Linked DNA regions of Homo sapiens: regions 2, 3, 4 and 5 are each reported to be linked to region 1. The links are microRNA targets in miRTarBase. Many come from high-throughput screens and were not tested one by one. Region 1 holds a microRNA gene; each other region holds the end of a gene's coding sequence. Distances are between the middles of the regions.
The links. The annotated mature microRNA hsa-miR-548aj-5p reads UGCAAAAGUAAUUGCAGUUUUUG and lies in region 1 at 2,182-2,204, shown strand. An mRNA with a match to its seed (bases 2 to 7 or 8) in the 3' UTR can be bound and repressed. Matches are read on the target gene's strand: a 7mer-m8 pairs with bases 2 to 8, a 7mer-A1 pairs with bases 2 to 7 and ends in A, and an 8mer does both.

Region 2: miRTarBase lists SLC48A1 as a target of hsa-miR-548aj-5p. Seed matches in the 3' UTR shown: 7mer-A1 at 2,752-2,758.
Region 3: the mRNA of HBP1 is a reported target of hsa-miR-548aj-5p. Seed matches in the 3' UTR shown: 7mer-m8 at 4,741-4,747 and 7mer-A1 at 4,619-4,625.
Region 4: the mRNA of CGAS is a reported target of hsa-miR-548aj-5p. Seed matches in the 3' UTR shown: 7mer-A1 at 1,662-1,668.
Region 5: miRTarBase lists CYP2U1 as a target of hsa-miR-548aj-5p. Seed matches in the 3' UTR shown: 8mer at 2,992-2,999 and 7mer-A1 at 3,597-3,603.

Annotation. Positions count from the first base shown.
Region 1 is chr4:147,340,617-147,346,884 of GRCh38, reverse strand. It overlaps MIR548G (microRNA 548g), which reads left to right and starts at 2,168; the gene lies at 2,168-2,256.
Region 2 is chr12:47,778,815-47,785,082 of GRCh38, forward strand. It overlaps SLC48A1 (solute carrier family 48 member 1), which reads left to right. Exons shown (of 3, transcript NM_017842.3): 2 at 214-381; 3 at 1,331-3,937. The coding sequence ends at 1,467. It overlaps HDAC7 (histone deacetylase 7), which reads right to left. Exons shown (of 26, transcript NM_015401.5): 25 at 5,265-5,403; 26 at 3,908-5,072. The coding sequence ends at 5,027. Among named protein-coding and RNA genes, the nearest start is that of SLC48A1, 8.7 kb to the left of the region's middle. RefSeq lists a silencer at 722-771.
Region 3 is chr7:107,200,951-107,207,090 of GRCh38, reverse strand. HBP1 (HMG-box transcription factor 1) reads right to left here. Exons shown (of 11, transcript NM_012257.4): 11 at 4,569-5,677. The coding sequence ends at 5,660. It overlaps COG5 (component of oligomeric golgi complex 5), which reads left to right. Exons shown (of 22, transcript NM_006348.5): 22 at 3,461-5,719. The coding sequence ends at 3,575. It overlaps LOC124901720 (a long non-coding RNA gene), which reads right to left and starts at 3,461. Exons shown (of 2, transcript XR_007060471.1): 1 at 2,600-3,461; 2 at 1-1,398.
Region 4 is chr6:73,419,523-73,425,634 of GRCh38, reverse strand. It overlaps CGAS (cyclic GMP-AMP synthase), which reads left to right. Exons shown (of 5, transcript NM_138441.3): 5 at 57-1,924. The coding sequence ends at 408. Among named protein-coding and RNA genes, the nearest start is that of DDX43, 28 kb to the right of the region's middle. RefSeq lists a silencer at 3,755-4,049.
Region 5 is chr4:107,949,740-107,954,739 of GRCh38, forward strand. CYP2U1 (cytochrome P450 family 2 subfamily U member 1) reads left to right here. Exons shown (of 5, transcript NM_183075.3): 5 at 506-3,722. The coding sequence ends at 684. The region is part of intron 1 of LOC107986298 (a long non-coding RNA gene); the gene reads right to left. Among named protein-coding and RNA genes, the nearest start is that of CYP2U1-AS1, 20 kb to the left of the region's middle.

The sequences.
Region 1 (6,268 bases):
CACTGTTAACATACTACCTCAGGCCACCATCATGTCTAGTTTATAATAACTTGGCTTTCCACACATTACTTCTCACTGCAGCCAAAGTAATTTTTATAATGTAACTCAGATTTTTTACATCCCTATTAAAAAAATTCCCATAGTTTCCAAAGCCACTGGAATTAATCCAAAGCTCTTACTATGGATCCTATAAAGCTCTAACTGATTTGACACTTGATTTCTTTAACTTCACTATCCTCTGCTAGCCCCTTTGCCCACTACACTTAATATTCCCATTTTAATTTTTCATCTGCATTCCAGGCCCATCTATCTAACTATATACTTGACATGTATACTTGGATGTCTCACAAGCATCTCAAACTTAACCTGCCTACACACACACACACACACACACACACACACACACACACACACACACACCTTGTGCCTTTACCACCCACTTAATTGTTCAGAGCAGAATTAGTGGTTACTCGTTTCTTTTCTCTGTGAGGCCTGTCATTTTTATTTCAAAGAAAACCTTGAAGTCATCCCTTCTCCCCAGTTCCATTGCCAACACTCTAGTTCAAGTCACCATCATCACTAGGTTGGACTAATAGATTAGACATATTTTTTGGTCTCCCATTTCTATTTTTGCCACAGTCCACGTGAGTCTTATCTTCAATACCAGTGACAGCACGTCCTTCAATGTGCATGCTTTGTTGATCTGCATGCATTAAAAGAATAACATGCTTTTGTGAAAAGTTGGGGGGTGTTGTCCATCTGGCGAGAATACAGATCAGGCTTTGAAAATGCCTTAAGAAAATGCCTAACTTGCCAATTATACTTTTGGTATTCAAAATATATAGATATAGCATCTGTATTAGTTAGTTTTTATGCTGCTGATACATACCAGAGACTGGGTAATTTATATAGGAGAAAGGGTTTAATGGACTTACAGTTCCACATGGCTGGGGATGCCTCACAGTCATGGTGGAAGGCAAGGAGGAACAAGTCACATCATGCATGAATGGCAGCAGGCAAAGACAGAGAACTTGTGCAGAGAAAATCCCCCTTATAAAACCATCAGATCTGTGAGACTTATTCACTGTCTTGAGAACAGCACAGGAAAGACCTGCCCCCATGATTCAATGACCTCCTACTGGGTCCCTTCCACAACACGTGGGAATTCAAGATGAGATTTGAGTGGGGACACAGCCAAACCATAGCTTCTATATTGTTCCAACTCCAAATCAGAAGATTAGGCCTAATAATGCATAGATTGATGATGACAACTCAGGACTATCCTGGAAAATTCAGGCCAAAAAGTTAGGAACATATTGACTGCAATAGGAAATAGAAAATATGTGGGCTGTTGCTAGGAATTCTTTCCTTTAACTAAAATCTATCTTTTTAAAAGTCAGAAGAGCAAGTATTGTAAAAAAAAGTAAGTTTACACTTATTCTACCCAAGGGGTAAAAACATGTAGCTAAGTAAATTCTTCATCTCCCTTTTCTCAGAACTCCTTAAAGAACTTAGGGAAATGTGATGTGAGCAACCATAGTTCCCTAGATTACTCCACTTTTTTTCTGTTATTAAATAAGGAAATTTTATACCTTGAATCTTATATCAACAGTTGCTATATAAAAACCACCCTAAAGCTCAATGGCTTAAAACAATAATTTATTTAGCTTATGATTCTGGTGGTTACCAGTTTGAGTTGTTTGCAGCTGGGCAGTTCTTCTGCTGGCTTCTCCTGGGATCACTCATGCAGCTGTAGTTATCTGGTATCTCGACTGGAGTGAGATGGCCTAAAGAAGCTTTCTTCAACTGTCTGGCAGGTGGTGCTGACCATCAGCTGGGCTTCTCTCTGAGGGTGGTTGTTATCCTCAAGAGGGCTAGCATGTGCTTTTATCCATAAGAGGGCTAGCCTGGACTAGAGTGTGAGAGCAGAAGCTGCAAGGCCTCTTGAAGCCCAGGCTAGGAAGCCATACAAAGTCATTTCTATTGGCCAAAGCTGGCCACAGAGACAGCTCAGATGCAAGGGGAAGAGAACTATACTCTACCACTTGACAAGGGAGTGACAAAATCACATTACCAAGTGTTAGCACGCAGGGATGAAAAGAATTGGGGCCATCATTGCCAGCAATCTACACAACTTCATTACCCCTTTAGAGAAACACTTTCTCTGAGTTATTAGATTAGTGCAAAAGTAATTGCAGTTTTTGCATTACGTTCTATGGCAAAACTGTAATTACTTTTGTACCAACATAATACTTCATATATGTATATCTGTATGTATGGTTATGTACATGTGTGTATATAGATTACATGCTGTAACTCAGAAATATACATGTATGCACACATAGCATACTTGTGCATAAATAAATTATTTACTAATATGTAGGTATGCATTAGTGAACCTATAAACATTTGGACAGGAGTTGTTTGTGGTTGTCTATTATGTTGTCTAAATGCATTTGTAAAAGGATCCATGCAATAAATGCATAAATATGTCTTAGAAGATGTGTAACTCTTAAATAAATAATTCTTTTGTTCAGATAAACAATGCATAATTCATCACTGGCCCTTATTTTGGCATCTAGAAAGCTCAGAGTTAAATGTAATGTCATTGTCCATTCTTGATATTAGCTTAGATATAATTGTCTTTCACTTAGAATTAGTTTCCAATTGCAATTATTTACTTGCTTATTGTTTATGTGTATTTATTATAAGCTACTTCAATCATTTTCAAAATGAGATGAAATATAAGCAAAACATTAAAAAACATAACAATGTGTCTTTTGAAGTATCAGATGTATTTTCATTTTAGAGAATGATAATAATGCACTCTAGAAACTCTGGAGAACCAGTTCACTTTGGCAATGTTTTTAGTCTTAGCTTATGAAATAAAGATAGTTCAAATAGTGGAGAAGAGTGCCCCAGAGAACTACTGGGCTCAAATGCTTATAGTTTAATTCGTTCTATTTCTTCCACTTCACAATCAATCATCTAGAAAAGCCATGATGACTCATCCTTAAAAAAGAGTCATTGATTTTATATCTCCATTTTCAATCTGCTCTTCAATTCACCTCTTTCTCCTTCTAATTCAGAAAGGAGTCTTCATGGAGAAACAAATAATTAATTTGGTTATTGGCCAATATCAGGTTATTCTCTCACATGTGAGAGATATCTAAAAATAAAGCTACTTTTTTCACTTTCGGTTCTTGTCATTATTTTTAGTAAATTTCTGAATTATAAACTCCCAATTCATACCATGCATAATATTTTTCTTTGATTTTCCTTTTCTCTCCAAAAGAATCCAAATATTTCTCCACAACACAATTGCATTTGTCTTGCCCTTTTTAGACTAGAAGTGCAAAGAATGCAAATGGGTATGGAGGCTATACCATTTTAGTCATTTAATTGTTCAATCACACTTCACTGATTCAGGGATGGCTTATCTGGCAAACTCTACCACCCAGGGCACAGTCACCAACCTGTAATAAGCAAAGAATTGCCAGGAAAATGTTATATTACATTCAAGTTGTCAATTTTAAAAGACATGGGAAGATTTCCACCGAAATTGTTTTTTTTTTTTTTTTTTTTTTTTTGAGACGGAGTCTCGCTCTGTCGCCCAGGCTGGAGTGCAGTGGCACCATCTCGGCTCACTGCAAGCTCCGCCTCCCGGGTTCACGCCATTCTCCTGCCTCAGCCTCCCAAGTAGCTGGGACCACAGGCGCCCGCCACTACGCCCGGCTAATTTTTTGTATTTTTAGTAGAGACGGGGTTTCACCGTTTTAGCCGGGATGGTCTCGATCTCCTGACCTCGTGATCCGCCCGCCTCGGCCTCCCAAAGTGCTGGGACTACAGGCGTGAGCCACCGCGCCCGGCCCCGAAATTGTTATTGTTGATGTTCTTATTAGTTTCTGTGCTTTAAAGAGTTATGTTCAATTACTGGGAAATTAATTGATTGCAGGACTCATTCACCATTCTTTGCACAGTTTTTTGTTTGTTTGTTTGTTTTCTTTTTTTTTGAGACGGAGTCTCACTCTGTCGCCCAGGTTGGAGTGCAGTGGCGCGATTCGGCTCACCGCAAGCTCCACCCCTCGGGTTCACGCCATTCTCCTGCCTCAGCGTCTCTAGTAGCTGGGACTACAGGCGCCCGCCACCACGCCCGGCTAATTTTTCTAGTTTTTTTTAAGTAGAGACGGGGTTTCACCGTGTTAGTTAGGATGGTCTCGATCTCCTGACCTTGTGATCCCCCTGCCTCGGCCTCCCAAAGTGCTGGGATTACAGGCGTGAGCCACCGCGCCCGGCCTGCACACAGTTTGATGGAGCGGGCACTACACATCAGGCACTGACTAGGAGCTGGATCCTCTGTAGTGATGAACAAAACAAACACCACTGCCGCCTTGATGGAGCTTGCAGGATTGCAGTGGAGATGGACAGTTACTAAGAAAAAAAAAAAGTAGAACATGGGGGTATAATAGAGAACCCCGAGTGGGAGTGAGGAGATAGAGAGCATGATTATTTATTTAGAGTAATCAGGTAGGGCCAGAAGCCCCCAAAGAGGATGGAGCCAGCAATGTGAAAAGGGGAAGAAGGGTGCAATAGCAGAAACAACGACCAAAGGATTTGAGGTAGGAAAGAGATTGGCAATGCAGAGGTGCTGCAAGGAGGCTGGTGTGATCAGAATATGGGTTAGAGGGAGAACAGAATGATTTGGGATTGAGGAAGAAATTGCTGGATCATGGAGGGTTCTGCAGAATACAGTAAGGAGTCTGGATTTTATTCAAAGTATCATAGGAAGCCTTTGAAGGATTTCAAGCATAGTCACTGGGTAACCAGCTTGAAGTGTTTTGTTGCTCTTTGTGTTTGGTTATATTTGTTAAAAAACAAAACAAAACAAAAAAGCAATGCAGGAATGCTTCTGCAAATGTGTGGTGAAGAAATGAATACATATTTTAAAGACCCTAAATCTTAAACAATTGAGGGAGGATTATATAAGAAAAATAACTGAAAACTACAAATATAAAATGAGGAACAGAGTTGTCCTGGGAGGGCAGAGCTTAAGCTTCATCGTGTCATAATATATCCACTTATTTCTGGTATTGTGGAAAGGGTTGTATTGATATCTCTGGCTTTAGGTGGGAACCAAAGTTGATTTTTAATTTTGAGAATTGCTTGAAGCACTTTCTCCACCATTCATCAGAAGCTCTGGCATTTTTTTCTTTTTCTTTTTCAACCTTTCTTGTATCTCACTATTCAATGCCCCCTGACTCAGAGAGCCCAGGTTAAACACTCATTTTTGTTTTGGCACTTGTCTTCAAATTGATTTGGAGATTTTCTGTTCCACACAAATGTATACATCCTTTGTAGCAATGTATCTCAGAGGGTTAGCATGAGTGCATCTGAAAAGGTATGGGACCGGGAGATGAAATCAAAAAACATGATGAGATTTCTGCATGTCCACATGTTTTTGAGATTCCTTTCTCTCAGGAAACAACAAAACTGGAAATATTCCAGAAGACTGTTACAGTGGTATTCCAAAGCTTCATTTTTTAAGATCAAAGACCCTGGAATGTTCAAGGTGCTTTATTGAGTTGGAGCCTCTGCTTCTTTTTGTTCAACATTCCTGTCTCCGTTGAAATCTCATTGAACACAGTTGCGTATCTCTTACCCTACTTCTGAAGCTGTTTTTCCATAGGAAATGGTGTCTATCCTGTGAATTGCATTCTCTAAAGAAATAGTGCTTTAAAGATCAGCCGCCTAATTTATTCCATTCTCAGGGCTTTGGAACAGAAGTTGAAATGAATGAAAATAATTGAGTTTGTAGGCCTGGTCTGCAGATATGAAAAATGTCTGGAAACTGTTGAGTATGGAATGGCTTTAATTTACTCTGTGGATTGCAGCCCGTGATCTGCCTGTTTGTTGTTAACTTTCATAAAAGAGAAAGAAATGCAGAGAGCAAAAGCTTTCAGAATGACTGTAGTTGGAAGGAACTAGTACTTGAAGCTCTACAATTGTTATTTACATTGAACAATGGGGGTATTGTTCTGGAGGAGTCGAAGAGGAGGACAGAACCTGGGAGAGTCAGACAGACATCCTCATTAGTGAGATCTCAAATGGTTTATAGCCATTGAATGGCTTCCTTCCCACATTAGCAGGTGGGCCTGCAGATGCTGTGGAATGATCAAAGCTAGGACTTGGTGTGACTAATAGGAGGTCTTGAGAACATAGCTTCTCCCTCTACACTGAGAATATTGTCTCTCGACTTTCTGCATGTGAC
Region 2 (6,268 bases), not on the chromosome of region 1:
CTGCAGGTTTCTCTAATGTTGGGCTTACTAGCAGGCAGCTCAGTCTCTTACCTGCTTCTGATATCACAGCCTCCGAAAAGGAAAACTCCATTCTATGAGGGAATGAGAGACAAGACCATATTCTTGGTATTCTTATGCAAATAGGCCTGGTCTAGTGGATCTGCAGGGCTCTGGAGCACCCTGGGGATGGGCCCTGATGTGTCTCTCCTGCAGGGGTGCTGGCACTGTGGGTCCTGGTGACGCACGTGATGTACATGCAAGATTATTGGAGGACCTGGCTCAAGGGGCTGCGCGGCTTCTTCTTCGTGGGCGTCCTCTTCTCGGCCGTCTCCATCGCTGCCTTCTGCACCTTCCTCGTGCTGGCCATCACCCGGCATCAGAGTGAGGGCGGGTCCCAGGGAAAGAGGGCATGGGAGGGACAGCAGCGGGGATTTTAGCAGCATTCCCATCCTGGTTCCACAGGTTACCTCCAAAGAGACTGGGTGAATTACTTAACCTCCCCGGACACGGGTTTTGTTATGGTTCATGTGGAGAAAACAAGTCCCCACCTCGCAAGTTGGGTGGATTCTATGAAACTGATGTGAAGTCTTGAGCAGTGCATAGCCCATACAAGCACTCCTGATATTGGGACCCATTAGTCTGTGCTCAGCTCTGGGATGGGAGCGCCCTCTGGTGGCTGTGGCTGGAAATAACCAGAGGTCCTTCTTCCGGGAGTCTGATGCTAACTAAAGCAGGTTGGAGGTGGCCTAGGGTATTTGTCACAAAAGCGGAGTGGATGATACAGACCTGTGATTGGCCAGCCCTGCCCTTCCCTAATCCCCACGGCCTCCTGCCTGAAAACCCTGGAATACTCTAAAACGGTCCCCAGCTCCGTTCTACTGTTCCAGGCTGTGGAACAGTAGTGGTCCGTGGCCTGTTAGGAACCAGGCCACACAGCAGGTGAGGGGCAAGCGAGCCTTACCGCCTGAGCTCTGCCTCCTGTCAGGTCAGCGGCGGGCATTAGAAGCGCAAACCCTGTTGTGAGGCGCATGCGAGGGTTGCGTGCCCCTGATGATCTAATGTTTGACGATCTGAGGTGGAACAGTTTCATCCCCAAACCATCCCAAGGTTTTTGTGGAAAAATTGTCTTCCACAAAACCAGTCCCTGGTGCCAAAAAGGTTGGGGACCATGGCTCTAAAACCTCCATCACAGTGTCTTTCTGAAGGGTTGGTTCAGCTGCCAGGACGTTGCAGGGATGTTGAGTGGGGAGGGTGGCCCTGGCCTTGTGGCCGGTGCAGAGGCCGAGGGCAGGGCCTGCCAAAGTCACTGTCGGTACTTCTCTCCCTGCAGGCCTCACAGACCCCACCAGCTACTACCTCTCCAGCGTCTGGAGCTTCATTTCCTTCAAGTGGGCCTTCCTGCTCAGCCTCTATGCCCACCGCTACCGGGCTGACTTTGCTGACATCAGCATCCTCAGCGATTTCTGACCCAGGGGGTGAGGTCTCTGCACCCTGGGGGGGCCTTAGGACCTGGACTCAGCCTCTGAGATGTTGGGAGAGGCTACTCCCACCCCCTGGTGACCCCAGAACTGTGGCAGAAAATACACAGCAGGACGAGTGTGGTCTCCCAGGAAGCTGTCCTGCCCGTCCCCTTTCGAGGAAACCTGAGTGTGGTAGAGAGGGGATCCTGCCATGTTGCTCCTCATCAGCCTGGCCAGAGGGCAGCTTTAGACCTTTTCAAATGAATCTGTTTTCTTTTCTTTCTTTTTTTTTTCTTTTTTTTTTTTTTTTGAGATGGAGTCTTACTCTGTCACCCAGGCTGGAGTGCAGTAGTGCGATCTCAGCTCACTGCAACCTCCGCCTCCCAGGTTCAAGCAATTCTCCTGCCTTGGCCTCTCAAGTAGCTGGGATTACAGGCATCTGCCACCATGCCCGGCAAATTTTTGTGTTTTTAGTAGAGACAGGGTTTTGCCATGTTGGCCAGGCTGGTCTCGAACTCCTGATCTCAGGTGATTCACCCGCCTCAGCCTTCCAAAGTGCTGGGATTATAGGTGTGAGCCACCGTGCCCGGCCTGGATCTGTTTTCTTAGCACGCAGTGAGGAATCTTTGTACTTAAGGCCAGGGCAACAAAGTCAAGAGGTCAAGGTGTAGGGCCATGAGGCCTGGACCTATGCTGCAGGCAAGGGTTTCCATCCCCGCTGCCCTAGGCACTCTCTTCCCAAGGCCAGGTTGGGCACCTGGGGAGGTCAGTTCAGAAATATCTAGCAGAGACCTCTTAAACCCCCATCCCAGCACCCCATCCTGTTGTTCCCAGAGCTGGTCTCCCATGAGTGTGCTAGAGCCAGATAGCCGTGGCCCCCCACCCATCTCACTCACACACACAGGCATCCATACACCCCAGAAGACTTCCCAAATGAGGCCAGACTCAGGGTCACGGGGAATGTGCTTCTGCCCCTGTAAGGGCTTTGGGGAAGGGGGCAACATAGTAGAGGCTGGAAAGAGCCCCCAAACCTGTACCCATGCCCCTCCAGCCCTGCGTTTCCATTCTGCCTTCTCAGAGTGCCCTTGCTGCACCCAGACCACCGGCCAGGAGAGACCTTCTCTCCCACTCCAGCCCCTCTCACTGCCCTTCAACTAGAGCTTTCACCTTTTTACATTTCCCTTCTGAAGGACACAAATCTGCTTTTCTGCCCATACACTGGCCCAAGGGCTCACCTAACTTGGGAGGGAAGGGGCTGTTGGTACAAGGATGATTTTCTGTTAGACTGCCATTTTGCACGGTCTCCCCCTTCCCATCTGATGTGTCCTGCCCCTCAGCTCTTTGCCTTATCTGTGTCACTGTCACTTTAGCAAAAATACAGCGGCCATTTGTATCAGCCTCTGGTGGTTGCTTGTGAGGTGGGACTCTTGCGGGAACAGGTGGACTTTGGGAGGAGTGGGCAGGGAGGGAGTGGTAGTGGCAGTTCTCGAGCTATCTGATTAAGCCATTCCGCTAGTTCAGTTGTGCCCTGGAGGGCAGGGGACAGAGTCAGTATCTCTGGGGCTGCAGGCCCTCTTGCCTTGGCCCTCCTGGCATGGGGTAACCACCAGCTCAGCTCTCCTCCTCCAGCTTTCCTCTCTCTAGCACACCCCAGCCAGGGCAAGGATGCCCACGGGCATAGCTACAGCAACCCCTGCGGGATTTGGTGTCCACACCCGAGAGGCCAGGCCAGATGGGAAAGGGATTAGCGCCTCTTCCCTCACACTCTGCCAGGCTGCCAGGAGCTTGGGCCAGGTCTAAGGTAATGAGGTGCTCCTCTTCCTGCTGGAAAAACCGGACAGACTCAGAACCACAAAGGCAGGTGCTGCCAGCCTGGCGCCTTCCTCTCTGCTTAGGCTGGGTGAGCTTGTCCAGGCCTGTGCCTCACCCCTTCTCTCTTCTAGGCTCAGTGTATGCTTAATCAGGCATGGTGCATCAGAGCGGGAAGGAGCCATCAACAGTGTATACTTCTGGAGCCTTCTACTGATAAACAGAGGCCCCAGAAGACGATTTGACTTACCTGAGCTCCCAGCTGGGACTTAAACCCAGGTGTGTCTGAGTCACAACTCTTCGGGGATGCCGTGGTGAGCTGGGGCTGAGCTCCTGTATTCCCACTCCCCCACCCCACCCCCACTCCTGCCATATCAGGGCTGGTCTCTGTGGACTCAGCCCAGGGCTGCCTCCTCTTTGTCACCCCAAAGTGGGGCAGCCAGGGACAGCCAGGGTGTGTTCAGAATGGGTTCTTCCTGCAGGGCAGGAAGGGCAGATTGTTAAAGGGGCTGCGGCCCAGACCACCCTGGTCCCTCCTCCGGCAGTGACTCAGACCCACACTGTGCCGTGCAGCTGTGTGCCCTGCACACCCGCTTGACGGCGCACTGCTCACTTCTGGGGGGCCCTTTCAGAGGCACTTTTAAAGCAAATAAAACATTTATTGTTCAGATTTTTTTCCATTTTCTTCCTTTTTACAAAAACATGCATACATACACAGGGTATGGTGGGTCCTAGGAAAGACACACACACACGCCTCACTCACACACACGCTCACACACACGCCTCACTCACACACATGCTCACACACATTTTCCTTCTTGACCCCAGGCCTGGACCCCCAAAAGCCTTGAAGACTTTGCCAGAGCAGCCTCCCCTCCTCCATGTCTGTATCTTCTCTCCCACCCCTTCCCCCTCAGTCAGGCTACTCCTATGTGGGGTGGGAATCAGAGCTATGGTGGGGGAGGCCCCAGAAACAGAGAAGGCTCCCCGAGTGGGCAGTGGCCGAGGGGTCCCAGGGGTATGCTGCGCTTCTTGGGGAGATGAAGGGTTTGGCACCATTGGATCAGGAAGCACAGGACTCCCAGAGCACCCATCTGCTCCACCAGGGCATCGCCAGGAGGTTGATGTAGGGGGGCCTCTGGCGAGGGTACGGACCAGATGGAGGGCTGCCAGTCTCGGCTGTCAGGGAGCTTCGTCTCAGTGCCCAGTGGTAGAGGGAAGCTTCCAGAGTCGTCTGAGGAAGCAGGTGAGAGGGACTACCCCTGCACTCAGGAATATGGGACCTCTTGGCTCCCCACTCCCCCCTAGCCCCTAGAGCCTAGGAAGGGCCAGCCTGTCTGAGGCCAAGTTCACATTTCTGTGTGGAGCCTGAGGCTGTGTGCAAAGTCTGGGGTTTGCAGAGCCAGGAATAGTGGTTAAGGGTGAGCCCGACGGAGCCGGAGCCAGTCCTCCTCTGTGCAGTCCTGAGGAATGGGGGCCACAGCCAGGGCCCATACTGGAGGGGAGAATCTGTTCTCGAGAGCCCTGTGGGGGTCGCCGCCCAGCCCGTCTCCTCTCAGGGTCCTCTCCAGTTCCCATTCTAGACCCAGGGATTTTCTCACGCTCCCTGGGATAACTGTCAAAGCAGGCAGGCTGTTCTCTGGTTCCAACTACTTGCCCACAGGATCTCTAAAGACCCAGGAATGGGGGCTATTGCCAGGGGTTAGAAGAGAACCAGGTCCCAAGGGCATGGTGGGCGGGCAGATGGTTCCAGAGCCTTAGAGATTCATAGGTTCTTCCTCCTCCACCAGCTGCTCCGAGGGCCTGTGGGGAGGGACAAGGGTGGGATGCTGGAGCACCAGGGCTGCAGCAAGGGCCTTAGCTAAGCTTCCTCTCAACCCTGGTCAGGAAGCCTGGGAGGGTTGGGGTGGCTGCATAGCGGACCCGGGGTCTTCAAGCAGGGAGGAATGAAGCGGTGGAGAGGCTGTGGGCCCAGGGCCAGGGGTCTGGCATTACCTATCTTCAGCCAGGATGCCCACAGAGAGGGACGCCAGTGCGGTCACTGCCTCCACTTCTTCTTTGTCAGCCCCTGGCACTCTAGGCACCCAGGAGTCTGGACAGGAGGCCAGGCGCTGCATGCAGCCCCAGTATTTACCTGGGGTAAGATGCCAGGTCAGAAAGGGTTGGAGAAAGCAAGCCCCTCCACACTGCGTCCTAGACCGGATATTGAGGTTGGTGTCTCAGGCCCAGGGCCCCGGAGGAGCGGGCCTGTCCTCCACTTAGGGTCGGCTCTCCCACCTGCCCCTCTCCTCACTTCGCTCCCACTCCCGCACAGCCTGACAGGGTACACAGAGTGGGTTCAACATGGCTGTGAGGGAGTCCTAGCAGGTGCCCAGCCTTTCTCTCATCCCCTGTGGCTGCAAGGCCACCTTTGACTCATTCCCCACAGGTGCGGGGCTCCTGAGAGCATCAGGAGAGCCTGCTTGCCTGCAGACAGGGTCTGTGTCACAGTGACCTCCCAGAGCCCCAAGCTCGGGCCTCCCACTTAAACACAGCCCCCACCAGTGCTCAGCCCAGCACTCAGGAAAGGAGGGCCTGGGAGGTGGGACGAACACAACATGGGAGAACTGACCATCACCACGGCCGCTCTGCATGGGTGCCCAGGCCAGGAGAATGCTCCTCCTGCCTGCTGCTGTGAGGAACCATGTCCTGGAATCTGGCTCAGTGTGAGGGCACCCACCGTAAGAGGAATCAGCCATGTCTTTACCATTATGTAAAGACATCACGGCTCCCCTACCCAGCCCTTGATATGGGAATCTATTTTACTCATTTTTATCCCTAGTATAGATTATGGGTCTTGACATAAGATGCTCAATAGATGTTGAGTTGAAGTTGAAAATTTAAAGTACTTTACAAATGTGGGGGTTATCCCAAGACGCAGCCCCCAAGCCAGCAGAGCTCCTGAGACGCCTGTGGCCAGGACTGAGGGGAGGGATGGGAACCAGGCCTTTTGGCAAACA
Region 3 (6,140 bases), not on the chromosome of region 1:
AATGTTGTTTTCCATGAAAACTTCCACTTGGCTAGTTTTTGTCATGTTGAGCAGTGTTGCCATGTTACCACAAACCATTCCTCTACTAATCGTGTTTTTTTTCTCAATAAGGATAACCTCAATAATCTACTTATTTTGGTTACAAACCAGAGTTAAGACTAACTGTTACATAACACTTGGCCTGACTTCCAAGAAAGCTAATGTTTTGCTTAAGCAAATGAAGTAATTTAATAAGTACTCGAAAATCTTGCTCTAATTTCATGTGGGAGGGCAGCTTAATCTTTTTTGCCCCATACTTCTGATGGTGTTTTTGATGACTACCCAAAAATCTAACCAAACTCATTTCTGATCTCTTCTACATGTTGTGTAACTTACGTGATGTCTTATCCTTTTAAATGCCAACGAAACTAAGTTGATTTTTGTCCATCAAATATATCTAATCCATTCACTATGAAATGATTGTAGTTCCTGTGAATTTAAACACTTCTTATACGCTGATACATACACCTTGGTGTCTTAAAGACAGATGAGCCCTTGGGGATTTCTTTACTGTATATGATTCTGTAGGGACTACATTTGGGGAGTGGAGACAATTTCCCAGGATGGCATACCAACTAGAAGCATATTACCAAAAGAAGCAAGTTTTTTTCATAGAAAAATATCTCCATTCAGGGTCAGCTCTGGTTTAACTAAGGCATCTCACAAAACATTGTTCTCTAAGAGCACTAAATTCCATCTTGCATGCCAGTTGAGAGTGGTATGTTAGCTGGGACTTGAAACTGGGTATGTGAGCTGAGTAATGGTATGAACTTACATGTTATTTAAAACAGCTACACTTCTTCTGGCTCACGCCTGTAATCCCAGCACTTTGGGAAGCCCAGGTGGGCGGATCACGAGGTCAAGAGATCGAGACCATCCTGGCCAACACGGTGAAACCCCGTCTCTACTAAAAATACAAAAAAATTAGCCGGGTGCAATGGCGGGCGCCTGTAGTCCCAGCTACTCGGGAGGCTGAGGCAGGAGAATGGCGTGAACCCAGGAGGCGGAGCTTGCAGTGAGCCAAGATTGCGGCACTGCACTCCAGCCTGGGCGACAGAGCAAGACTCCGTCTCAAAAAAATAAAAAAAAAAAAAAAACAGCTACACTTCTTCAGTAAGGGCTTGCCCATCCCCCTGCATACCTGATTTAAAGTACTCCTGCCCTGACCAGAGCATGGAGCCAGCCTTCAGGGATTCCAAAGTGCCGGATCCTACTAAGTCAAGGCTGTTGATACAGAGGTGAGATCGTTTCACAAACCTGTGTGACTCCAAGATGGTTTCCATTCTTTCCTGCTGCCTGGAGTTAAGAAAGGCTTTCCTTAAAAGGGAGCATTGAAGCCGAGTCCTAAGAGATAAAGAGCTGCGCAAGAAAGTAAGCAAGGAAGGGTATTCTAAGGATAAGGAAGATAATGTGCAAAGGGCTAAGAGAATGTGGCTCTTTAACTGAAACATTCAGTATGGCCAAAGATAAACAGGCCCTTTGGCACCCCCTACTTTGTTAGGCAGAGACAGCTTTATTTCATAGCAATGTATGAACAAACACCCTTGATCTTTCCCTAGGTGGGCAGCCAGGTTGGGCCATACAAATGGGGCAAATATGCTTTGCACATTACTTGGTAACACAAAAATGGAAACTAATGATTTGAGGGTCTTTTTAGGCCACATCAAGCTATCTAAAACCCAGCAGTAGCACAGAAAGGGCTGGGAGCAGCTTGATGATGAAGCTGGTATTCAGTTGGGTTGAGTCTAGGCACTGACCAGAGCATGGAACCAGCCTTCAGGAATTCCACAATGCTGGATCCTGCTAAGTCAAGGCTGTTGATACAGAAGTCAGACCTTTCCAGATTTCCTATAAAGAACAGGGCACGGCAAGTGCTGTAATACTTCAGGGGAAATCTCTTGCTATAATATGGAAGACTGACCAGAACAGGGGAGAAACAGCAGTAGGATGCTCACCACCTTAAGAGGCTACAGCAATCATTAGGGCACAAGATAGCAAGGGTTCAAAGTGAAGCGAAGGGGAGAGGAGGGACTGGATGTGGAAATGTGTGTAGCAAATTAATAGGATTTGGTAATTGTTTCGGTGTAGGAGGGGAAAAGAACTAAGAGACCTTAAGTTGATGGTGCCCTTTGTTGAAATAAGGGAAGGCGGGCAGAACGCTGCCCCAATTTTTTGACAAATGAGTTTGAGGCTACCTGGAAGCAAGTCAGATAAAACTGTCCAGAGGACAGGAAGAAGCAGAGATCAGGAGGGGGAGGTCGAGGGCTGGAACTTAAGAGATTTGAAATCCCTTTACGTATGACAGTGGCTTGTGGGATGAAGGGCACTACAAACTGATCAGTGATAGCCAGACTCTGGGGAAATGTTTTCCCCACAATTCAATGAAAAATCTTGAACAAACCCAATTAGATTAGTATTTTCAGTATTTGAGAGCAAAAGAAAACCACTTAAGTGCTATCGTATGTGAGCTGAGTAATGGTATTAACTTACATCTTTATACAAATGCTCCAATCTCAAACTGAAATTTTGAAGAAAATATGACAAAAATGTATTTGTGTACCTGGTACTTAAATAGACCAATAATTAAAAATTAATCTCGTAGCCATTCTTTTTAGCTCCACTTAAACAGACGATCTGGTTCAGGGACTGACGAACTTTTTCTGTAAAAGAAGGGCCAGATATATTTCAGACTTTGCAGGCCACATGGTCTCTGCCTCAACTATTCAACTCTGCCATTGTGTGAAAGCAGCCACAGACAATATATAAATGAACAAGCATCAGGCTAGATTCAGCCTGCAGGCAGTTTGCTAACCCCCAACCTAATCCATGAGATCATAATCATAAACAATGGAATGGTACATCCCCTTGATTAAATTCAGACTGCTTCCCGATCATGTATTTTGCCATTACAGCCCAAGAGCACTTATTCTAGTTGTTGGTTGTTCATAGTTCATCAAATAACAGGAATATAATGCATCTACTGGTGTTACCGAATGTGCCAAAGGGCCCCATCCCCTTGTACTCTTGAGCGTGCCTTTCAGAGGCGCAGGATGCCCCTCGTGAGCTCTGGGAGTAGGCACAAATGCCCATTCCGTTGCCGGTGTCTTCAGTAGGGAAGCAGGGAAAAGGGAAATTGAGAACATATTTACACAGCCAGAGGACTCCGAGTATATGACTAGACCACTAAGAACAATGCAGACTGAAAACATGGTTATAGTTTTTCACACTAAACGTAGTAACCGTAGTAACCATAGTAACACTACCAGTAACTGAGTGAAGGCTGTTGGTCACTTGGCTTGTGAAACCGAGCATTAACAGTTCCAGAAATGAGCTTACTAATAATTTTTATATATTGGTATCCCCTTAACTGTTTTATGTGATTTATCTAATATTTTGACATTGTTTTCATTTTGGTTTTCAGGGGAGCCCTGGAAGCTTATGTTCAATCAGTGAGAAGTAGAGAAGGCAAAGAATTTGCACCAGTTTATCCCATAATGGTTCAGCTGCTTCAAAAGGCTATGTCTGCTCTTCAGTAATGACATGAAATCTTTGTTCATCTCCACTTTGTGCTAACCCATTCATAGTTGGCAGTTAAACACATACTCCAAAAGACTGCTACTATCTACTATTTTAAGAATGTAATTGATTGTTCGGTATTTCCTATCGACGTTTATTTACCTCTTTAGCACTTATACTTTAGCATAAAAAATGTTGAGTTATCACCACCTTTCAATTCCATGGACCTGATTTTTCCAGAAAGATGTTTTCCTCTTTCAGATTTTTGTACAAGGCTAAAATGTCTTTCCCATCCATAACCAAGTCCTCCTATGGGTACATAAACCCAAAGTCCCCACTTCTTTTAAAGGGATATGATCAAGTTATAACATGTACCCTGCTTCCCCCAACCCTGCCTTCTTCACTAAATAAGCATGTAGCTCAGTGGTTTCCAAATTTGGCTGCACATTCATACCAATCACCAGGGGATTTTTTTAAAATCCTGATGCCCAACTTGCACTCCACATTAATTAACATGTCTAGGAGTGGGAGCCTGACAGACACCACTATTAAAAAAAAAAAAAATCCCCAAAATGATTCCAATAGACAACAAAGTTGAGGAACCACTGGCACATCCCAAGCTAAGATACAAGGTTAAATGGCCTTTTTAAGTATGTCATACTGGATCTTTAAATAAAGCAAGGCTTTTGTTACACTTTGTCATGTTATTAAAAGCAGACCTTTGGGCTGTTTAACCGTGTAACAAAAATGCCACGTGAAAAATAAAAATTTTTATTGTATAGCAATTCTCTATAAATAGTAGATAATCTAAGTCCTTATTTTCTGATGGCTCTTGTTCCACTATTAACATTGTTTTTAATTTTTAAAATCCTATCAGCAGCCTCCTAATTAGCAGTGTTAGGAATTTGCCTTATGTTTTCCATCTCATCTCCTGAACCTGTTATTCTGAGAACTCATAAATAAAATTCAGCCAAGATTAATCAATCAATCAATCAATCAGTAGACGTCAGAGATAAGCAACTTTTTTTTCCATTTATTTGAAATAATATACAAGAATATAGTGTGCAAAATTTAGGGGCAACATCATGAAGAAGTGTGATGAACTGAAATCAATTTTACAGCTGTGATTCCTAACCAGAAACACCACTTGGTAAGTAACATGAAAAGCCATGATTGTAGCTCAGAGCAAAAGCAGCTGTATTGCCAATGTATTTGCTCTAATTTTAGACAGTTGGAGGAAAATTAAAGTGCAAGTGTTGCACTGCAGTAAGTGCAAAGTCTGCCCCCACCATAAAGATTATGATGACAAAATATATTTAAGATACATGGCTGAGGAGATACAGAACACGAAGTTAAAAAATACAATGGTGTTGACTGTTTGTTAATAGCACCATTACAGTGACTATATCCCAATGCTATTAACTAACTTTACCTTGGCCTGGGCTAGGTCTCCATTGGAAATAATAACGGATGGCTGCTGCCACCTGGTGCATCAACTCAGCATGCCATGGTAACTGCAGCAGGTGGCTCTTAGGCTGGGACACCAACACCAGCCACCTGCCCCATGTTCTGGTAGCCTCTTGGCACTGACCAGACTAGGAGCGCCTATGTTTGGCACAGATGCTGAGCCATGTGGTGGTTACTAGAGGAAAGGCCGACTCCCAGCTTCTGCTTCATTTCATCATGTGTACAATACAGATTAATAAGCAGTAAGGAGCCAATGTATAAACAGCAGTTACATATTTTTTAAATTCCCCTTTCGTACAATTTAAAATAAAACATGTATACACTTCTCCTCTCTTTCTACTGTACTTTAGCACCACAGGATATCAATTTTCAAGCCTATTATTACCTGATAGACATATATGAAGTTTGGAAGAAAAATAAGGCAATTTGGTTTAAAATGTTGATAGTTTTAGCTTAATGCTCTAATGGAGAAAGCAAATCCTCACTCATATTATTAAATCATTTCAAGACTCAATGCTATCAGTATCTTATGGTCACACGAATTGAGGACAAATGGTGAGACCTTGATCTTCTTAAGTCTTTCCATCAAGAGTCAATGTATATGCAAATATAGACTTAAGAACATAAGCATCCTGGTTTAATGTTGTTGTGAGCCCTGTGGAAATAAAATTAAACTCAGTGAATGTTTACAAATCAATACATAGTAATCCTATATATGAAAGCTAAGATGTATAAGATGTTTATAAATTTACTATTAGAAAATACTGCTTTCTTAAAGGTGATTTTAAAAAGCTAGCTGATATCTGATGGCTCAAGCATCCAGAAAATGTATGCAATGATAAGACATTGACTAGGATGAACAGAAAAGGGATACAGGAAAAGTCCGAACACATGAAATTCTAAATTAACCAAGAACTGCCAAAATTCAGTTCAGCCACCCTCTCATCTGACTACTGACTGACCACTATTTTTAAAGAAATTGTGAAAAATTTAAACAGATATGACCTGCATTTTACTAAGAAACAGGCACATGTACACAATGAATTTAAAACATCTTTGGCCAGCCCTCCTACTATAAAAATATTGATATCTTCCCTTCATCTTTCAATGATACTTCA
Region 4 (6,112 bases), not on the chromosome of region 1:
ATCCTTTGTTGAATGTAAATAAGTAAAAATAAGTGTTTTCCTTTTTTATTCAACAGGAAAGATTGTTTAAAACTAATGAAATACCTTTTAGAACAGCTGAAAGAAAGGTTTAAAGACAAAAAACATCTGGATAAATTCTCTTCTTATCATGTGAAAACTGCCTTCTTTCACGTATGTACCCAGAACCCTCAAGACAGTCAGTGGGACCGCAAAGACCTGGGCCTCTGCTTTGATAACTGCGTGACATACTTTCTTCAGTGCCTCAGGACAGAAAAACTTGAGAATTATTTTATTCCTGAATTCAATCTATTCTCTAGCAACTTAATTGACAAAAGAAGTAAGGAATTTCTGACAAAGCAAATTGAATATGAAAGAAACAATGAGTTTCCAGTTTTTGATGAATTTTGAGATTGTATTTTTAGAAAGATCTAAGAACTAGAGTCACCCTAAATCCTGGAGAATACAAGAAAAATTTGAAAAGGGGCCAGACGCTGTGGCTCACACCTGTAATCCCAGCTCTTTGGAGGCCGAGGCAGGCGGATCACTTGAGGTCAGGAGTTTGAGACCAGCCTGACCAACATGGTGAAACTCCATCTCTACTAAAAATATAAAAATTAGCCGGGCATGGTGATGCATGCCTGTAATCCCAGCTACTCGGGAGGCTTAGACATGAGAATCACTTGAACCCAGGAGGTGGAGGTTGCAGTGAGTCAAGATGGCACCACTGCACTCCATCCTGGGTGACAGAGCAAGACTTCCTCTCAAAAAATAAATAAATAAATAAGAAAAATAAATTAGGAAATTATTAAAATAATTTTTTAGAAAAGCAACAAAATAACAAAAATTAGTGACTGTAATAATTGGAATGTTTGAAATTTGTCACAGCAATAATTGACTAAAATGAATGTAAATAATTATTCAGTTTTCAGTTTGTTGTAATAAACTCTAATCAGTATAAAGGATTGACTATCCTAGGAAAAAGATTAGTCAAGGAATAAGAAGCAAAAGTAGTATTTGAAATCTAAAAACATTACCATGTTTGCTTTATCATGCAGGCAAATAAATAAATAAATGACATTTTTAGGTTGGAATAAAAAAAGATAAAGTACATATTGCCTTAATTAAATTCATCAAGTTCTTACTGAAAAACAGCTCTCCGCCGTGCCTGGCCAGGAAATACATAATTTTTTTTTTTTTTTTTTAGATGGAGTCTCGCTCTGTCGCCCAGGCTGGAGTCCAGTGGCATGATCTTGGCTCACTGCAAGCTCTGCTTCCTGGGTTCATGCCATTCTCCTGCCTCAGCCTTCCGAGTAGCTGGGACTACAGGTGCCCGCCACCACATCCGGCTAATTTTTTGTATTTTTAGTAAAGATGGGGTTTCACCATGTTAGCCAGGATGGTCTCGATCTCCTTACCTTGTGATCCGCCCGCCTTGGCCTCCCAAAGTGCTGGGATTACAGGTGTGAGCCACCACGCCTGGCTGAAATACATAATCTTAAAAGAAAACATAAGATACTTTATTTTAATATACGTGACTAAATGTAAAACCTAACTTATTTTCTGTTATCTATTTATTTTTACTTTCAGTAACACTTTTTTTATTTTAGGTAGCATTCAGCCTAGAGGCAACTGCTGTTTGTTAAATATTTCCTGTTCATATATTTTGCACATTTTCTTATGGGTTAGTTTTCTTCTCATTGTTTTGGGAAGTTCTTAATATATTTGGGGTATTTATCTTTCATTCGTTGTCTGTGTAACAAATAACTTCTGCCATATGGGTTGTCTGCACATTTTTTGGTGTCTTTTAGTAAACAAGGTTTTTTTGTTTTGTATTGTTTTGTTTATTGTAAAGATTTTTAAATTTTAATGGAGTTGATTTCTTTTCTCATTCAAGCTTTTGAGAATAAATTGGAGTTGAATTTTTTATGGTTTTTGCTTTATACATCTTGTTTAACAGCCTACTATGTTTGAACATACTAAGAGAAACATTAGACATTTGAAGAGTTTTGGGGACAATTAATGATAAATAAACCACTATGCAAATAAAATAATCTAAGCAATTTTTTTTTTTTTTGGGACAGTCTCACTCTGTCGCCCAGGCTGGAGTGCAGTGGCACGATCTTGGCTCACTGCACCCTCCTCCTCCCGGTTCAAGCAATTCTCCTGCCTCAGCCTCCCAAGTAGCTGGGACTACAGTTGCACGCCACCATGCCTGGCTAATTATTTTTGTATTTTTAGTAGAGACAGAGTTTCACCATGTTGGTCAAGCTGGTCTCAAACTCCTGACCTCAGGTGATACACCCATCTCAGCCTCCCAAAGTGCTAAGATTACAGATGTGAGCACTGTGCCCAGCCAATCTAAGCAATTTTTAACTCCATAAGAAAAATGAATGCATGAAAGAAAAGTCTGATATAAGAATATTGCTCAGCTGTTTAAGTATTGACAAAGTCATAGTAATGTAACCATTGACTATTAATCTTATTGAAGTTATGGACTGTTGTCGACTTTAAAAAAATTAAAAACCAGGGGCGGTGGCTCACCCCTGTAATTCCAGCACTTTGGGAGGCCAAGGCGGGCAGATCATGAGGTCAGGAGTTCAAGACCAGCCTGGCCAACATGGTGAAACCTCATCTCTACTAAAAATACAAAAATTAGATGAGTATGGTGGTACGTGCCTGTAATCCCAGCTACTTGGGAGGCTGAGGCAGGAGAATCGCTTGAACCCAGGAGGCAGAGGTTGCAGTGAGCCAAGACAGTGCCGCTGCACTCCAGCCTGGTGACAGAGCGAGACTCCATCTCAAAAAAAAAAAAAAAATTAAAAAAAAACTTTTTTAATGTGAAAAGAAAGAAAGAAATTATGATTACCCACTCTGTGGTTAGGATAGGACAATAGGCTTAGTTCCTGTATGGTGACAGTGGTAGGGAGATTACATTAGTTTCCTGTGTAACAATTAACCACAACCTTAGAGGCTTAAAACAACACATATTTATTATCTCACATTTTCAGTGGGCCAAAATTCTGGGTGTGGCTCTGCTCAGAGTCTCTCAAGGCTATAATTAAGACGTCAGCCAGCGCTGTAGCCTCATCTGAGGCTTGACTGGAGAAGGAACCATTTTTGTTGGCAGAATTTAGTTCCTTTACATTTGTAGGACTGAGGGCTTCAGTTTCTTGCTGTCAGCCAGAGGTTGCCCTCAGTTCCTAGAAGCTGTCTTCAGTTCCTTACCATGTGAGCCTCCCAACATAGGCAGCCCACAACAGTAGCTCGATTCTTCAAAGCCAGCAAGGGAGGTACTCCAGCAAGAGGAGTGCTACAAACTTGTTTAACACAATTACATACACATAATTATGTACAGTCCGTTGCCTGTACTGTATTCTATTGATTGGAAGCAAGTCAAAGGTCCCTCTCATACCCAAGAGGAGAGGAATCACTCAAGGGTGTTCTTGTTGTCTCAGATGCCAGCGATACAGTTAGGGGGAAAACAGTTCCCATAAGACCACCCTCATTTCTGTCAACAATTGCAATTTCAAGGGATTCCTAAAACCACCCTGAGGTTTGATGAAAGACTCACAGAACTCACTAAAACCACTATGCTCATGGTTGCAGTTTATTATATAGTAAGCATGCAAGTTTAAATCAGCCAAAGGAAGAAGTGCGTAAGGCAGAGTTTAAGAGAGTAGCAAACACAGCACTTTCTGTTGTCTTTTGGTGGAGTCATGGACATGTTATTCTCTTGGCATCAATGTGTGCCAATACACGCAGAATATTGCCAGCCAGGGAAGCTCACCTGAGCCATGTCCAGAGTTCTTACTGCAGCTCATGGTTGGCTGGACATATGTCTAACCTCAGTCTCCAGCTCCTCTGGAAGGCAAACAGTATAAGCTGATACCATGACCCAAAGACCCCACCATAAATCACATTGTTATACTTTCTGGCACATTCCAAGAATTCAGCCATTACCTTTCAGAAGCCAAGGGCAAAGGTGAGACTTTTCTTTGGGTTAGGTTAAATTCCTTACTACATAGATATGAACCTCAGGAGGTGGGGGGCCACAGGACAACCCTGAGGGTCCGACTGTCACAGGTATGCAAAAACTGAATTAATCTTCCTTATAGTGGGAAGTCAGTAAATGTCAAATTTTTAAAACCAAGAAATTGCAGTATAAGCAAGTTATTAATGGCTAAAAGATGAAAAGGTTACATCTTGGGAGTGGAAAATGAAGGGTGGAAGGGTTCGGGACTACTTTTTTTTTTAAATAAAATGATTTTATTTAGTTAGTTTGTAAATGTGAATATAGTTGGCAAAAACCAAACCAAAACAGCATAAAACCAAAAAATGACAGTTATATGATTGATCATGCCCAAGTACAACAGCATTTATTAGTAGAATATAAAAAATAAATTTTATGGCTGGGTGCCATGGCTCATGCCTGTAATCCCAGCACTTTGGGAGGACGAGGCGGGCGGATCACCTGAGGTCAGGAGTTCAAGACCAGCCTGATCAACATGGAGAAACCCCGTCTCTACTAAAAATACAAAATTGGCCGGGTGTGGTGGCGCATGCCTGTAATCCCAGCTACTCAGGAAGGCTGAGGCAGAAGAATTGCTTGAACCTGGGAGGCAGAGGTTGCAGTGAGCCGAGATTGTGCCATTGCAGTCCAGCCTGGGCAACAAGAGCGAAATTCCATCTCTAAATAAATTAATTAAATTAAAAATAATAAAAAATTTTATTATTGTTGTTATTTATTTATTTATTTTTTTGAGACGGAGTCTTGCTCTGTCACCCAGGCTGGAGTGCAGTGGCGCGATCTTGGCTCACTGCAACCTCCGCCTCCCGAGTTCAAGCGATTCTCCTGCCTTAGCCTCCCAAGTAGCTGGGATTACAGGCACCCACCACCACGCCCACCTAATTTTTTGTATTTTTAGTAGAGACAGGGTTTCACTATGTTGGCCAGGCTGGTCTTGAATGCTTGACCTCATGATCCACCTGCTTTGGCCTTCCAAAGTGCTGAGATTAAGGCGTGAGCCACTGCGCCTGGCCTAAAAATTTTGTTATTTTTATGTGCTTTTTTTCCCCCAGCTTTGACTCTCTGGATGCTTTTGAAAGTTTGAGTTCCTAAGAAATTCCACAGCTAGAGGTTCCTACGATGTCACTGAGTGAGGTTAAGGTTCTGCTCTTATAGGGAGCATCTTATCCTTGGGGATTCTGGACAACTGGACCCCTAGGAACTTGAAAAACAGCTGCTTTCATTGGTATTCTTTTGACATGGGGAAAATATAGCCATTGTCCATTAAAACACAATCCAATTTGGGTACAAGTACTCTTCAGGTTTTCTAAGTTCTCCACAGGAATACCAAGACTAGGCTACCATCTTTTCTGACAACAGACTACTTTTTAAATAAGCTTTGTAAGTCCAAGATTTCTGGCAGAGAAATGTAAATAAAAAATAAAAACAAAAATAAATAAGTCTTGTAGAACCATTTGCTTCCATACATTACATGTATATTTGACTTTGATAAAAATGAAAACAATTTTTTTTTTTGAGACAGAATTTCCCTCTTGTTGCCCAGGCTGGAGTGCGATGACCTAATCTTGGCTCACTGCAAACTCCACCTCCCGGGTTCAAGCGATTCTCCTGCCTCAGCCTCCCGAGTAGCTGGGATTATAAGCGCCCGCCACCACATCTGGCTAATTTTGTATTTTTAGTAGAGACCGGGTTTCTCCGTGTTGGTCAGGCTGGGCTCGAACTCCTGACCTCTGGTGATGCGCCCGCCTCGTCCTCCCAAAGTGCTGGTATTACAGGCGTGAGCCACTGTGCACGGCCTGAACACATATTATTTTTAAATTTTTTCATTTTGCCGGGCGCGGTGGCCTGAACACATATTACTTTTAAATCTTTTTCATTTTGCCAGGCATGAGGGTGGATGCCTGTAATCCCAGCTACTTGGGAGGCTGAGGCAGGAGAGTCGCTTGAACCTGGGAGGCGGAGGTTGTGGGTGAACTGAGATTGTGCCATTGCACTCCAGCCTGGGCAACAAGAGTGAAACTCTGTCTCAAAAAAAAAGTAATATGTGTTCAATGTGAAAAAGTCAGATGTTCACGTTAAAGTGTA
Region 5 (5,000 bases), 39 Mb from region 1:
TGATCAGGTAATTTTGGGGGGTCCCAGGGAGCTACTTAAGAGCAATTTCTGATCTGGTCTGGTGGGTGAGAGGATGGGTTCTCTAATCTCAACAGTTCCTCTTTTAGGTTCCTAGATTAGGAACATAGAATTCTTTCTGTGGAAAAAGGGAGGCTCTAGGGATTCTTATCTGAATTTTTTTGCCTTAATCTTCCAGGCAAAAGTGGAGGAAAGAGGTAAGTAGGCACAGAAGAGACAGGATAGCTGCCACACTGGATCTGTCTCTAGTTCCTGTCTAGAATGGGGATAGGTTTTTATGAGTAAGAGTTAAAATGTGGATTTGATATGTAAAAATTCTGATCAGCATATGCTGTGGGAGGCTATGTGGTATATATGGCAATTTGACTTAAAAACTCCATCTGCATTTAGAATACTCAATTTAGATATTTCATATAAATTTGTACTTTTTGAAATAGGAGAAGGGATGGTATTATAATCCTTCATTTTTTTCTGATCTCATTTTTAGGGAAGCGGGTGTGTATGGGAGAACAACTGGCAAAGATGGAATTATTCCTAATGTTTGTGAGCCTAATGCAGAGTTTCGCATTTGCTTTACCTGAGGATTCTAAGAAGCCCCTCCTGACTGGAAGATTTGGTCTAACTTTAGCCCCACATCCATTTAATATAACTATTTCAAGGAGATGAAGAGCATCTCCAAGAAGAGATGGTAAAAAGATATATAAATACATATCCTTCTAAGCAGATTCTTCCTACTGCAAAGGACAGTGAATCCAGCAACTCAGTGGATCCAAGCTGGGCTCAGAGGTCGGAAGGAGGGTAGAGCACACTGGGAGGTTTCATCTTGGAGGATTCCTCAGCAGGATACTTCAGCCATTTTAGTAATGCAGGTCTGTGATTTGGGGGATAGAAAACAAAGTACCTATGAAACGGGATATCTGGATTTTACTTGCAGTGGCTTCCACCGATGGGCCAATCTTCTCATTTCTTAGTGCCTCAGACATCCCATATGTAAAATGAGAGTAATAAAACTTGGCTTCTCTCTACCTCTCAGCACTAATGATGGTCAAATGCCTTACATCTTTTCTGATATCTCTAAAATGCTGTTAAGTTCTGGAGAAGAACTTCAGGAGAAGAAGATCTATCAGCTGGCTTTTAAAGACCTATGACAACATGAAAGTGGTGTTCAGCCTGGAATGCTTTGTCAGAGATGGGTGTGGATTTAGGTTATACTGGGGGAGAACTTTTCTCAGCACAGATTCTATGCCAGCTTCTTTGGGCTTGTTCTGTCACTATCTTTTTGTTTATGATTTTAGTTTTTACTTTTTGTAGATGTGGGATGAAGTGGACTCTGTCGTGTATATTGAGGAAAAAAGAAATTATAATTTTAAAAAATCCCTTGTAGGATTATTATCTAAATTTATATGTCTAACTTCTACTACAACTACAGGAACAGTGAGCCTTGCTACTTCTTTAGTAGCTTCTTGGCAGAATTCCTTTCTACTGAGTTATTTGCAAAGATGCAGCTCTACCTTTTTACTTAAGGCCTGAATGGTGAGCATGGGGATTTTGATACTGGGACTCATCAGGAAAGGATTCTGCTTTCAAACTATACTGAACATTCCTGTCCTAGCGTCCCTGCCACCAGGCCCAATGCATCTGATCCTTGAATATACTCTCAAAGAATTCACTCTCTTTTTATTAAGAGAACTAAATTGTTTCTAAATGTAGATGGTCCCTCTGGAAAAGCAGTTTTCAGCAGGGGTGGTAACCCCTTCAGAGGGAGTTTGGAAATGTGTGGGTATGATTCTTGGTTATCATAATGATGGGGGTGCTACTGGCCTTCTGCTGCCATGGGACCAGGATGCTAAATGTCAAGGTAGTCCTATACAGTGAAGAATTGTCCTGCTCAAGATGCCAGGATTTCCCCCAGTGAGAACATGCTCTAAGGAATGACCACCCCTTTCTTTTATTCTCCCACAGTGCTCCATGTACAGAAGTAAGCATAGCAGTCATATGAGCAACCACATTCCTGAACCTTTCCTCATGCTGGCTCTACACTTAATCCTTTACTTGTATGTTTCTGTAATTCTTACATAAATTCTATTAAGAGGGTGGCATACTGTAGTGGATGAAGCTGAGGCTTATAGTAGGTAAGGCACAAAGTTAAAAAGTAACATCACTGGGTTTCAAACCTACTGGTCTCTGTGACTAAAGAACACTTTCAGAACCACTTCTTGATTCTGCCACCACTTGATCCCATAACAGGCTACCCCTTGGCCTCATGCTGGAGTTGTGTGTGTCTGTCTTCATCCCAGGCTGAGCTCCTTGAGGTGAGGATGTTGTGCTGTTTGCCTCCCTCACAGTGCCTTGGTCTTAGTGGATGCCCAGTTGTCTTGTGAATGACTTTTAAGAAGTGTACTTAAGAGAAAAATCCTACCTTATTTGAATAATTACAAGTCATGTTTTTGTTGCTTAAAGGTGATAAATCAGTGTATATTATTTGTTAATGTCCATTAAAGCCAGTTTTTAAAAAAATCACTGGACTTTTGTGTTTACCATTTAAAACAACCATTTTAAACAAACTTAGAACGATGCCTTAGCTGTTTATAGGTAACAGAATGTAAACTCCCACCACCTGGAGACTAGGCCATATCCAGGGACCTCACACTGACTTTCCTAAAGGAGAGAAGCAGCTACGCTGTTCATACTGATAGAGAAGAGGGCAAGAAAAGATCCAGAGTGGCTGTTACTTTGAAAATTAAACGAAAGATGAAATTCTGAACTTAAAACACTTCTGTTTGGCCTTCTATAACTGATCACCCTTCTTTGCTCTGTTTTCCAGATAAATGGAGACACCAGATCTCCCTAACCTCTGACTTCTGCCGTTAGCCATACTCTGTGTAGTTAGATCTCAGTCTGGGAATGGCATTCCAGGGCAATTGTGAACATGAGGCTAGATTTTTCCTTTGATTTAGCACATTCCTAGGCAGACTTTTGCAAGCTCAAAAAATGAAAATAATATCTGCTTAACCAAAACATAATCATAGGAAGAAGAAAAATTTTAAAATGATTGATTTTTGACTCTACATTCTTTATCTACCATACTGCTCTTTTCCTTTTTAGAAATATTACTAAGCACTTTCCGTATAGATAAATGAAATACAGGCTAATCTTTAGGTGTCTTAGGAATTTTTGCTTTTTGAAAAAGAAAAGCTAATAGCCTAACTGCAGAGGAACTGAGTGGATGGGGTAGCTGCTGTATAGATTTTTAGATGAGATGATACAGTGTGGATTACACTGTACCTTGGGCGGGAGAGTTTGTTCTTGATATGGAATTCATATGCTTTTGAATTGCACTAATAACTCAGCATTAACAAGTATATTACTCCTTAAATTATACATGCATTTTCAATATTCCTAACCAAATAGTTTATAGCTTATTGAGAAGAAGTCTGTTCTTGGAGAGATGTTGAAATTAGATGTTTATTAAACTTTAAAATATAATGCCTTAAGCTGTGGCACTTTAAAAACATCTTTATATATAAATTGCTAAAAGGACTGTTAATGCTTTTCTCAGACACATTGGCATTTTACAATTTTGCACATGGTTTATTTGAAATCAAAAAATAACTATACTTTGTTTTATAAGTCTACCTAATATCTCATTTTTGATTCTCATCGTTAGCACAGTTTTGTTGCTTTTATTAAACTATTTTAACTGAGAAAGTGTCATGTCTGTTTTTTGTTTTGATTTAATTGCTATGCAAAATTTTGTTTTACCAGATGTCAAGTTAATGTAAAAAGAAAAGAAAATAGGCCTCCAAAGACAGATGTCCACAATAGAATGTAAGCATGGTCCTTAGAAACAAGGGTAATTCTTTAAAACTTTCCCCATGGAGTGAAGTTCCTTAGAGGACTGCATCACCACCCAGGTGTCTTATATTCCCTGTAGAAGCCCAGCATGAGTTGAGTTGAGAGGAGATGGGCCCACATGAGCCTGCTGTGGCCAAGTATTGAGTGCTGGTCTCACACTTCCCAGCTCAGGAAAAAGAGCTTTTTCATACTTGAACCATATTTTGCCTGTGGAGGGACCCCCTGCCAGCTTTTTCCACAGCCTACTCTTCTTCCTGAAGTCACAGCTCAGACAGCATCTCCTCAGAGAGGTCACCCACCATGACATCCAAAGTGGCCTTTCCTGAGAACTCCCTAATCTCATCACCCAATTTCCTCCAGAGCCCTCATCACTAACTGCAACTACCTTGTTTATTTAAACCTTCTGTTTCTATCCTCTCTCTCATCTCCACTCCATGAGGATGTCAGGGACTGACTATATCTGATAACTTACCAAGAGTGGATGCCTTATGCAGAGCAGGCATCAGTAAATATGTTGGGCAAATGAAGAATTAAGTGAGTTTGATGGAAGGTGATTATTTGACCCTTTAGGCTACAGAGGTGATGATACAGGCAAACCTGTCATTGTTTTCTGTCTGCTGCCTCAGTGACTGTGGCTTGTGCCACCAGAGTATGAGTTCTGGTGAAATAACAGTAGTGAAACAAGGGGAACACCAAATAATGTGGCACCCTCAAATCTACTTCGGTTTTGCTGCACTGTTTTTAGAAACCAAATTCATTTAAGTAGGGTATTTGTTCATTAGTAAATAATTTGGTATTATCATCATTGAAATGATATACTTTTATATTATTTTATTTATTTTTTTTGAGACAGGGTCTCACTCTGTTGCCCAGGCTAGGGTGCAGTGGCATGATCACGGCTCACTGCAGGCTGAAGTGATCCTCCCACCTCAGCCTCCTAAGTACCTAGGACTACAGGTGTGTGCCACCATGCCTGGCTAAGATATTTCATATTCTTATCAGTTCTTCCCTTTGTATGAGGGTCAAATAATCAGTTTTTGTTAAGGGAAAAGGCTAATTATCCATAAGACTCTCAGTGGATTGCTCAGCAAAATCCCTGCAGCCAAGGATAGAGTAGGATGATGTAT